Linked DNA regions of Homo sapiens: region 1 is linked to region 2. Evidence: fine-mapped QTL for protein levels in blood plasma. A gene starts in region 2. The other region holds a variant in brackets. All regions are shown on one strand. Distances are between the middles of the regions.

What was found. PIP is the chance, under the fine-mapping model, that this variant and not a neighbour inherited with it causes the effect. The UK Biobank Pharma Proteomics Project read protein levels with antibody pairs (Olink). The fine-mapping took linkage between variants from a reference panel, not from the people measured, so its PIPs are less certain.
Region 1: its variant is fine-mapped to the plasma level of the CA13 protein (UK Biobank, PIP above 0.99).

Annotation. Positions count from the first base shown.
Region 1 is chr8:84,801,693-84,807,078 of GRCh38, forward strand. RALYL (RALY RNA binding protein like) reads left to right here. Exons shown (of 9, transcript NM_173848.7): 4 at 3,078-3,110. Among named protein-coding and RNA genes, the nearest start is that of LRRCC1, 300 kb to the right of the region's middle. The variant C/A (reference allele first, on the strand shown) is at 2,109.
Region 2 is chr8:85,243,285-85,248,670 of GRCh38, forward strand. It overlaps CA13 (carbonic anhydrase 13), which reads left to right and starts at 2,174. Exons shown (of 7, transcript NM_198584.3): 1 at 2,174-2,581. The coding sequence starts at 2,545. It overlaps LOC105375936 (a long non-coding RNA gene), which reads right to left and starts at 201. Exons shown (of 3, transcript XR_929126.3): 1 at 61-201. RefSeq lists a silencer at 2,429-2,508 and an enhancer at 2,869-2,978.

The DNA of each region.
Region 1 (5,386 bases), 440 kb before region 2:
TCTGGACAATACTTAGTTTTTCTGGAATGAAGTGTTTATTGTTTAGTTAGAGAAGCAGTAAAGAATGACATGGAAAACTGGTGAGGGCATGTTTGTGAAGATCTTAAAAGTTTGGGTACCATCTTCTTATGATTAATGAAATCAAGAAAGGTGGTAACACAAAAACATTTCAGGTGAATATGTTAGTAGGATCAGAGGTTGAAATGGTGATGTAGAGAAGGAATTCAAATTATTCTGAATTTCTAAATCTAGGAAAATAAATAACTTGATATGTATTAAAAGTAAAGAAAGCCTATTTTAGGAGGTTGTTTCCAATTCCTTCCAACAAAATAATATCTCACACACTGGCATACTTTTTCTATAAAGGCCACATAGCAAATATTTTAGGATTTTGGACATGCAGTCTGCTCTGCCACAACTACTCAACTTGTTGCCGTAGCACAAAGCAGCCTTAAACAATATGTAAATGAAGTCACATGGCTCTGTTTCAGTAAGCTTTATTTACGGACACTGAAGTTTGAATTTCATGAATTTTCATGTGTCACAAAATATTATTACTCTTCTTTTGATATTTTCCAGCTACTTTAAAATGTAAAAACCATTCTTAGCTTGGGGCTATACACAATCAGAGGGTGAGCAGGATTTGGCCACAGTTTGCAAACTCTTGGTTTATAGAACATCATCAGAACTTTCAATCCAACATCATTTTGAAAACTTTGAATTTCTTCTGAAGTCTTCTCTTGAGCATTTGGAAGGAGCTGGTTGAAGTGGGCTTGAAGTGGTAGGAGAAGGGGACAACTATTAATAACTAGCTAGTCAGACAAATCATACTAACCACAGGGGGCAGTAGGACAATATATGTCCCTGTATGCTCTAATCCAACAGTTGCTTGTCTGAAACCTTCAAAAAAAAAGAGAGAGAGAGAGAAATCAATCAATAAATACTACTGCAAACAAACACATTCTGAACTCAGTATTTTGATAATTGCAGAGGGAAAATCAAAAGTGGTGGGCTTTGCTTTTATTCAAGTTGCTTATGCCACCCTAAAGTGGTGCAATGCAGTACTTGCCCAAAGGAAGTGAGTGGCAGCATTGATGGAAGCTTAGTGTGAGAGCAGTGTGTAAAGTTGAAGTGACTTTGAACAAAGAATTTCGGAGAGACTAACTAGGCTGGGGTAACTAATGAAAACCAGGCTGGGAATGGAATGCAGAGGGGGACATGAGAGTCCCAAAGGAAAAATTGATGGGACTTGCTAACTAATGAGACATGGAGGCTGAAAAAAGAGAGAGGAGAAAGATATAAAACCTTTCAAAAGATTCTCATTATATTATTCAGTGCCACTAAGAATCACATACCAGTGAGAGGCAAGGGGGACGATGTAGTGTATAGAAAATGGGGAACATAGGAAGCTGGAGAGTAGCACTTCAAACAAGCAAATCACACACATACACTAATGTCTGATAAATGTCAGGCTGAAATTATTGGCAAATACAGAGAGAAGGGATCCCATTAATGCCCACATGCTATCTTTATTTCAAGTATTATCAGGTGGAAAATAAAGTAGTACCATTATCGTGTTGATGGTCTAAATATGTGAACAATCTCCTGCATCATATTATGTAGAATCCCCCTCATTTCTTCAAGGCAATTTCCTTTTGATCACTTGGCACTGGTCATGTCTTATAAAGCAAATATATCCAAACATTTTTCGTTGCTTCAGCTTTTCCCTCCCTAGTTCTGTTTGCTTATGTAGATCACAAATGTATGAGAAAAACAAACACAATAAGGCAATTAATGTACCTACAGTTAGAGATGTGAATAATATTGGAATTCAGAAAAGGAAAGGTTACATAAATAAACCTCTCCAAACTCTTAGCACCAACTATTGGTTTTATCTGCTTCTACCCTACCTAGAGCTGTCCAAAGGGATTGCTAAGGCACTTGCTTCCTAAAAATCCCTTTTCTGCCATTATGATTCACCCAAAGCAGCATGGTATATGGCGGAGATGCATGTCAGCTCTGCCTATAAATGCACCAAGGCATATTTCTCATAAGCACATTTTTGCCTACACAGAATGAAATAGAGACAAAAAAGTAATTAGTGCCTT[C/A]GTTGTTTGGACTCACATTTATAAAAATAAATGTTTAGCCTAATTCTAAGATAGTCATTTCAACTGTCTTTCTTAAAAATCTTAAACACCAGGATTTAGTTAAAAATATCTTCAGTTCGCCTACATTTCACCCTTAATTGTATCTTAAGAAACCTATAATGAAACTAGCGTGGCCAAAATACACTTACCAACAGGTTTCCTTAATTATTATCTAGGAACTATTTAGAAGTGGATGCTTTCCTGATTTACTTACATGTTGTAAAAAAAATGGAAAGTTAATTTATGAAATTAGAAAAGTAGCTGAAAGTAAGCCTAGCCCATTTTATAATGAGAAAAATAAAACACAGAATATGTTTTAAAGTGGCTTTCTCAAATGAACCACAACCTTCAGGATTAGACTTTCCCTTTGAGATATTGAGGTACAGAAAATACCAAGTTTTTAGAAGCACAAAGGAGGCTGAAGGACCCAAATTTGTGAGCTGACACTACCCCACCCTAAGGGGTGTTAAGACCAATAAATAACTATATATGGTATGCTGCTTCTCTCTTCTGAGTAAATCAGTTATTCAACTAACATGTAACAAGCACATTATAAATTATTTCACTATTACAACAACCACAAATAGATATATAGAAACGTCTACAAACAAATTACCATGTATAAAGAAAATGAGTAGATACAGAGAGTGCAATCAGAATTAGATTAATACTATGATCATCTTAATATATCAGTTAAATGTTATGTCCTCATTCCAAGACTCTCATTTTATTTAGCTTCTGCATTAATCCAGCTGCAAATTGAATTAGTCCAGATTAGGTCTTAGTATATTATTTATAGCTTTTTACTGGTGCTACATTATGCATTTTCATCCAAACAAGTATAATAATTTTGTCAGGTTCATGTAAAAGCAATTTTTGAATATACAGCAAATTTTTATATTAAAAGAAAATTTTCATATTTTTTCATAGACTTGAATCAAAGGAACCTTTCCTGTCTGTTGGGTAAGTATATATTTAAATACTTTAAGTATTAATTATTTAATTCAAATTTCCAAGAACTTCTGAGATGGTATTTTCAGTCATTTAACATCATATTCAAAATCATAACATATCAGTGCATGCAACATTGCTATCTATGTTTTATAAAGACTTAACTAAAATGCTCCCTAGGTTGTATTGTGACCTCAGAAATGCAGCTAATGAATGTATATGAAATCCTGTATCTTCCATAAAGGCTAAACAAGGTACACAGTGATCATCCATATTCTCTTCATGTAAAAATATACTCAGATTGGTTTTAAAAATTCCTCTGAGCCATAGCTCCACCATTCCAAGCCTGTCTACCCATTGCCATTCTCCATTTCTTTTCAATCTACTCTATTCACTGTTTCGTCACCCACTTCCCTAAGTCTGTCTTCACAATCAATATCTATCTTTTCTCCTTATCTCTCATTTCACTTTAATTTCTCCAGTTCACTCACATTGACTGCTTCTTTGCACCCAAAGCTGAGGAACCCTGAGGCAAATTTAGATAAGACGAACGCTTGCCTGCTCTGATGGTATCCTTCTTAGTCACAATACATATCTTTAAGAATAATATATTGTTGGCCAGGCGCGGTGGTTCATGCCTGTAATCCTAGCATTTTTGGGAGGTGGGCGGATCACCTGAGGGCAGGAGCTCAAGACCGGCCTGGCCAACATGGTGAAACTCTGTCTCTATTAAAAATACAAAAATTAGCTGGGCATGGTGGCACACACCTGTAATCCCAGCTACTTGGGAGGCTGAGGCAGGAGAATTGCCTGAACCTGGGAGGCAGAAGTTGCAGTGAGCCAAGATCACACCACTGCACTCCACTCCAGCCTGGGTGACAGAGCAAGACTCTGTCCCAAAAAGTAATAGTAATAAAATAATAACAATAATATGTTTTTGACATGAGTGCACATGTTCTATTTTTAGGCATTTCAAACTAAGAATAAGCAATGTTGTTTGTATCTGATCAAATACTCCTTTGACTAACATATTAAAGTGTATTATGAAAGGACTTTTGCACTTTCAATATTATAGATGATATTGTATGAAAAAGTTGTGAAAAATGCAATGTCTTGCCTAGAGAAATCATGCTATATTTGATGAGGGAAAAAAAGCTGTCATATATAGGCAGCCACAATACTGATGCTTAATGACCAGAAACATGGAATGGGGTTAGATTTTTAAGTGACCAGATCAATTTTCTTTTATTACTTTGTACATGGTCATTGAATATTTCTATCAATCACTCATTCAACAACATGGTTCCCAATTCCTTTCTACTCTTCATAAAAGCTTTTCAGAAAGCCACTCAAATCATGGAAATCAAAATAATTATTAGGGGATGTGGAAGACAAAAAATGGAATATATGCATTTATTTGAAGACTACATGGAAAATGAAAGGTCGAGTTGGTCTGGCCCAAAAAAAGTGATAAAGCATGCTTTTTTCCCTACATTGATCATCAGCTCCTATTGTTAAAAATCTCTACACCTGAAGAAATCTTTTAGTTTGAATGCATGTGTATTTGCCCTCAAGTCAAAAGGCCTGAAATAGCTTCTCTTCACGCCTCACTTCATGTAGTTTCTGTGCAGCCTTTACTGTTCTCCTGGCTATTATGAGATGGAATTCCTTTTTTATTGCATACTTCTGTTTTAAAAGGCAGACCCTAAGTAATCTTTGTTTTAAATTTATCAACAGTTTAGCACTGATTATTAGAACCCTGAGAAAATCTCTCCAAAAAAAAAAAAAAATACTGTATCGCTCAGCCAATGCTCAAAGTGGGAAAATTAGCATGGCACACATAAGATACTGCTTATGTCTTAAAAGTAAAGTGGTGTGAAAGGCAACCCAAATGATTCTGCTGAATGGATATTTTAATTTATAGCTAAATGTTTCTGTTCCCTCAAGAAAATTATTTTAAATAAGATTGTCCAAAAGTATGTATGCTAAGGTGGGCGACTCACTTGAGTTCAGGAGTTCGAGACCAGGCTGGACAACATGGTGAAACATCATCTCTACAAAAAATTACAAAAATTAGCTGGCCGTGGTGCCGTGCCTCTAGTCCTAGCCACCTGGGGGGCTGAGGCGGGAGGATCATTTGAGCCCAGCAGGTCCGGGCTACAATGAACCGAGATCGCACCACTTCACCCCAGCGTAGGCAACAAAGTGAGACCCTGTCTCAAAAAAATAAAAGCATGTATGTAGCTCTCTGCTGCCTTTTTCAGTGAGAAGATGTAAGTTCTTTAGTG
Region 2 (5,386 bases):
ACACTCTTTTGCTCCTTTGCTTCCCCCGCTCCCGCAACCTCAATACATCCCAGGACTCACTTTATATCTGCTCTGCTCATGGAGATCTTCATTCTTTTTATAAATGGACAATAGTCCATTGAATGGCAGCTGGGCGCAGTGGCTCACATCTGTAATCCCAGCACTTTGGGAGGCCGAGGCGGGTGGATCACCTGAGGTCAGAAGTTGGAGACCAGCCTGGCCAACATGGTGAAACCCCATCTCTACTAAAAATACAAAAATTAGCCACTAGTAATGCATGCTTGTAATCCCAGCTACTCTGGAGGCTGAGGCAGGAGAATTGCTTGAACCTGGGAGGTGGAGGTTGCAGTGAGCCGAGATCGCACCATTGCACTCCAGCGTGGGCAACAAGAGCGAAATTCCATCTGAAAAAAATATATATATATATAAGTCCATTGAATGATGGATGCTCTACAGATGACCTAACTAGTTTCCTATGAAAGGTAATTTGATTGTTGCCAATACTTAGGTTGCTGTTTTAGAAAATTATATAGACTGCGCTATGAATTTAAACAAGAAGGAACTTGAAACCACTACTGCAAAATTATAATTGAAACAGTGAAAGAGATTGGACCTAACCAACTCTATCTTATTTCTAACTTCTAAGCTGTCCTTACTCATTCTTAGGCATAGGCTGAACTAACTTTGAGGAGGAACATAGTTTATAGTTTAGAACAAAGACAATAACAGCCCTTTCCCAAAACAAACCTTCTTTCCTGGGGACTGGACCGCCTTTGCAGGACTAACAAATTAGCCAAAAGATTAGAAATTATGGTTTAGGAGTCATACAGCTGGAGGCTGTATGATTCTGACCCTCCCCAAATTGCTCCTGGGAATAACATCACTATTGTAAAGCCTAAGACCAGTGCTTCAGATATGTTGCAGACCCTGCACTGGATGGATCAGCAGGCACCACTCAGCTCGATAAACTGGCTCATCTGATCCCATGGCCCCCACCCAGGAACTGACTTAATGCAAGACAGCTTTGACTCCCTATGATTTCACCTCTGACCCAAACAACCAGGTCTCCCGACTTACTGGCTCTCCTCCACCCACCAAATTGTCCTTAAAAACTTTGATCCCCAATGCTTGCGGAGACTGATTTGTGTAATAATAAAACTCCAGTCCTCTGCACAGCCGGCTCTACGTGAATTTCCCTTTATGAATTGCAATTCCCCTGTCTTGATAAATCAGCTGTGTCTTGACAGTGGGCAAGGTAAACCCATTGGGTGGTTACAAACTGTGTACCCAAGCAATAAAAGTAACAATTTGGGAAGTATTTGAGACCCACCAACCAAAATTTCTTTAACAATTTTGGTCTATTCAGTCATTCATCCATTCATGTAACCACTATTATTGGGTGTCAAGAACTGATACTTACTTAGAACGTTAAGAGCATTATTCATCTTGACATACCAAATCATCCGAGTTACTGAAAATTGGTTTACTAGGTTCCTTACAAAGAGGTTGCTTGGATTTATAAAATATGAGGCAGTTGACCCGAGACAAGGACGTAGAAAGTGGTTCATGTACCCAATTTTTATTTTTCACTTTGAACCCAGAACATTCACGACTCCAGGCCAGAAATTCAAGACTCTGCAGCTAGTTCTGACTCCAGTCCTAGGGTAACAAGCCCACCAAGAATCCAGGGCAGATGTCCTGAAAACCCTTCTTGCGGGGTCAGGAGGGCAGCAGAATTTTGGGACCAAATCTCAACAACTGGTTTTGGTTTCCTCACTCACCAAGCCACAAGCCTGCAGAGTGAGAAGAGGTAAGGAAAGGATGAATGGGCAATGGAGCCAGCCCAGGACCGGGAGCTGGTCCTCTCTAACAGCGACCCCGCCCGCTTTAGCTGAGCGACCCGGGGCAGGTTACATAGTGTCTCTAACTTAAGCCACGTGTTTCTCGAGGAAATGCTGAGAGGATCTAATGGGAAAACGTGGGTACACGTCTTAGCTAAGACCCTCGCCCACGATAAGCCCTTAATAAGTAGTTATTTTTCAGTGGTGGTGATTACCATCGTCATTATTGTTTTGTATTTGTAATCATCACTGCCACGACCATCACCGACCTCTTTTACGCCTCCACCGGGATCCCCACCTCCCAGCCTGGCAGTTCCAGGCTCTGGTGACTCATTCACTTCCTGGAAGTCCTCTAGGCAACACTTTCCTCTCCCGAGTGACGACTCCTCAGAAGGCAGGAGATCCCCCCCGGAAACCTTTCTCTCTCCGTCTCTCCCTCTAACTCAAATCTCTCATTCCCGAGTCCAAACTAAGAGAGACTCGCGCCCCAGGAGTCAGCCAGCGGCGCGGGCGCCTTCCCCGCACGCCTCTGCCGTCTGGAGGACGCAGGCGGGAGCGCCCCGGACCGGGTTCACGGTCTCGCACTCCTGCCGCCGGCGCCCCGCGGTCCCGCCCTAGCAGGCTCCTTCCCGGGCCCCTCCCCGCTCCCTCCTCTTTCTCGCTGCTCAGTCACATCTTTCTCTTCCTTCCACCCCGAGGGACCATGTCGAGGCTCAGCTGGGGATACCGCGAGCACAACGGTGAGCGCCTTTTCCTGATCCAAGGGGGGGTTTGTGCGGGGGACGAGAGGACTAGCGCGACGCCCCGGCGCTCGCTGACCACACACTGGGCTCGCACATTGAGAAACTTTTTCGGTTCCTCTTTAAACTAAGCAGCACTCCTGGGAGCCCAGTGCGAGAAGCGGAGAGCAGTCTTGTCAGGGTAGACGGGTTGTTGGTGGTGGATGTGAGCGTTGGTGTGTGTTATCTCTGTCAGGATTCCCCAAACTCCCAAGTGTTCATACGTGTGAGTTCACCTTCATCTGAAAAGCCAAGGACTTTGCCTAGTAACAGCCACGTATCAATTACAGGCTTGGAGATCAGAAGTCTGATGACACACTTCAGTGAAATAAGGACAAGTTCGCTTTCAGTCTTTTAAGCTCACTATTCACTTAGGAGAAACAAATCATAGAAAATCTTTAAAAATATATTTAGGAAATCTTAACTTGCATTGTGACACTGAAGATTAAGTTGGCTTCGTGGCAAACAAAATACTGCATGTTTCCTAATAGTTGTTACTGTAAATATTCCCACAGCAATTTGCAGTTGGCTGACTACTACTGGGGACTTTAGTAAGGGTTCAGGTTCTCGCTGGGAAATTAAGTTACATTGTGGGTTACTTCTCCACTCTTCTTCTCCACGCTCATCCTTGCAGGGTGAGCAAAGGATTACTGAAATTATAATTCATTGATAGAAATGTATTAATAGGATAAATAATAATGACATACACTTTTCTTCTTGTATATCACACATTATCAAAAGTAAAACATTTTTTCTTGTTCCTACGTTAAACTGAACTGATTGTTTAAATAATAATTATTTGAAATAATCGCAGTGACACCAAAAAGCCTTATAGTGAATAACTGTCAAAATTAAGGCTTAGTTTAGCCATTCCTCAATGTGCATATATTTCAAAACATCATGTTGTACACATAAATATATACAATTTTTGTCAATTTAAGAAGTAAATACATAATAAAGAAAAAAATTAAGGCTGTGAATAATAATGCTTTCCTTCTATTAGCATGTACATGATTAAACAGTATAGAATGGTCAAATTTTATAGAAAGTTTAATTTCACAAACTAACAGAAAAATTCTATTTCTAATTGTAGCCTGTTTAATTTCTAATTGTAGCCTGTTTTTAAACATGCTAGTTTAAAAATGGCAGCAGGTGAAATTTATAACTTTAATAATAAAAGGTGTATAGTCAGATTTCTTCTTGATTAAGGCCATAATTATAATCTTACATTTTGCTAATTTCCAGTGAATGTTTAGGGGGAAAATATGACAAATCTTTTTTCATTTCCCTCTCTGCTGAAGTCGTTTTTATTGGAGTTATTTAATAGTCATTGAATCCCAACTGCGCCTTTATGGTAGTTAGGAAGAAGAAGGGTATTTCAATCAATCAATCAATGGATATTGATTACTCTTTAGTAGGTTAGAAATTATTCACCTGAATGAAGCTTATTTCAGCAATTTTAAAAATTCATCTTAGCAAAGCCATTAATAAGGAGTGATTTTGTATTTCTGTTAGGAATTGTTCTGTTAGGAATTAGCCATTCCTTTCTTTTAGATGCGATCTCTCTCTGAAGACCACATCCTTACTTAAAGGTGTGGTCTTCAGAGAAAGATTGGGAAAATCCTATTGGAAATGTATTATATACTAACTAGGCAAGTTTTTTGTTTGTTTGTTTGTTGTTTTTGAGATGAGTCTTGCTCTGTTGCCCAGGCTGGAGTGCAGTGGCACTATCTTGGCTCACTGCCATCTCCCTCTCCTGGGTTCAAGCGATTCTCCAGCCTCAGCCCCACCAAGTAGCTGGGATTATAGGCATGAGCCACCATGCCTGGCTAATTTTTGTATTTTTAGTAGAGACAAGGTTTCGTCATGTTGGCCAGGCTGGTCTAGAACTCCAGACCTCAAGTGATCTGCCTGCCTTGGCCTCCCAAAGTACTGGAATTACAGGCATGAGCCACAGCTCTGGGCCTAACTAGGCAAGTTTTTTGTTTTTTTTTTTTTTTCTGTTTAAACATTGGTAAACCAGTGACTGAGCAGATAAAAGGAAACTTAAGCTGGGAATAGCAACACTGATAAAATAAAACATCAAGACTTGAAGCCCTGAAAGGGTACTGCCTTCACAAATAACTTAGGATTCTTCCCCTAACCTTTGACTACTTTATTAGTTTAGTTTAGCGAATGTGACATCACTGAAAAGTGTATATCACTGTAGGTATTTAAAAGTTCCTAAATCAGTTGAGCAACCACCACATATCTCTAATTAAGAATTATGCTGGCTGGGCACGGTGGCTCATGCCTGTAATCCCAGCACTTTGGGAGGCCAAGGTGGGTGGATCACCTGAGATCGGGAGTTCAAGACCAGACTGACCAACATGGAGAAATCTCGTTTCTACTAAAAATACAAAATTAGCTGGGCGTGGTGGTGCGTGCCTGTAATCCCAGCTACTTGGGAGGCTGAGGCAGGAGAATTGCTTGAACCTGGGAGGCAGAGGTTGCAGTGAGCGGAGATCACGCCATTGCACTCCGGCCTGGGCAACAAGAGTGAAACTCTGTCTCAAAAAAAAAAAAAAAAAGAAAAAGAATTATGGTGGCTTGCACCTGTAATCCTAGCTACTCAAAAGACTGAGATGGGAGGATTGCCTGAGGCCAGGAGTTCCAGACTAGCCTGCAGGGTCATGGGGGGGACAAGGAGAAGGAGGAGAGGAGGAAATTTTTTTTGGAAAAATTGAAAAAGGGGACCTCTTTAAGAGGCAGGGTACTGAACTGACT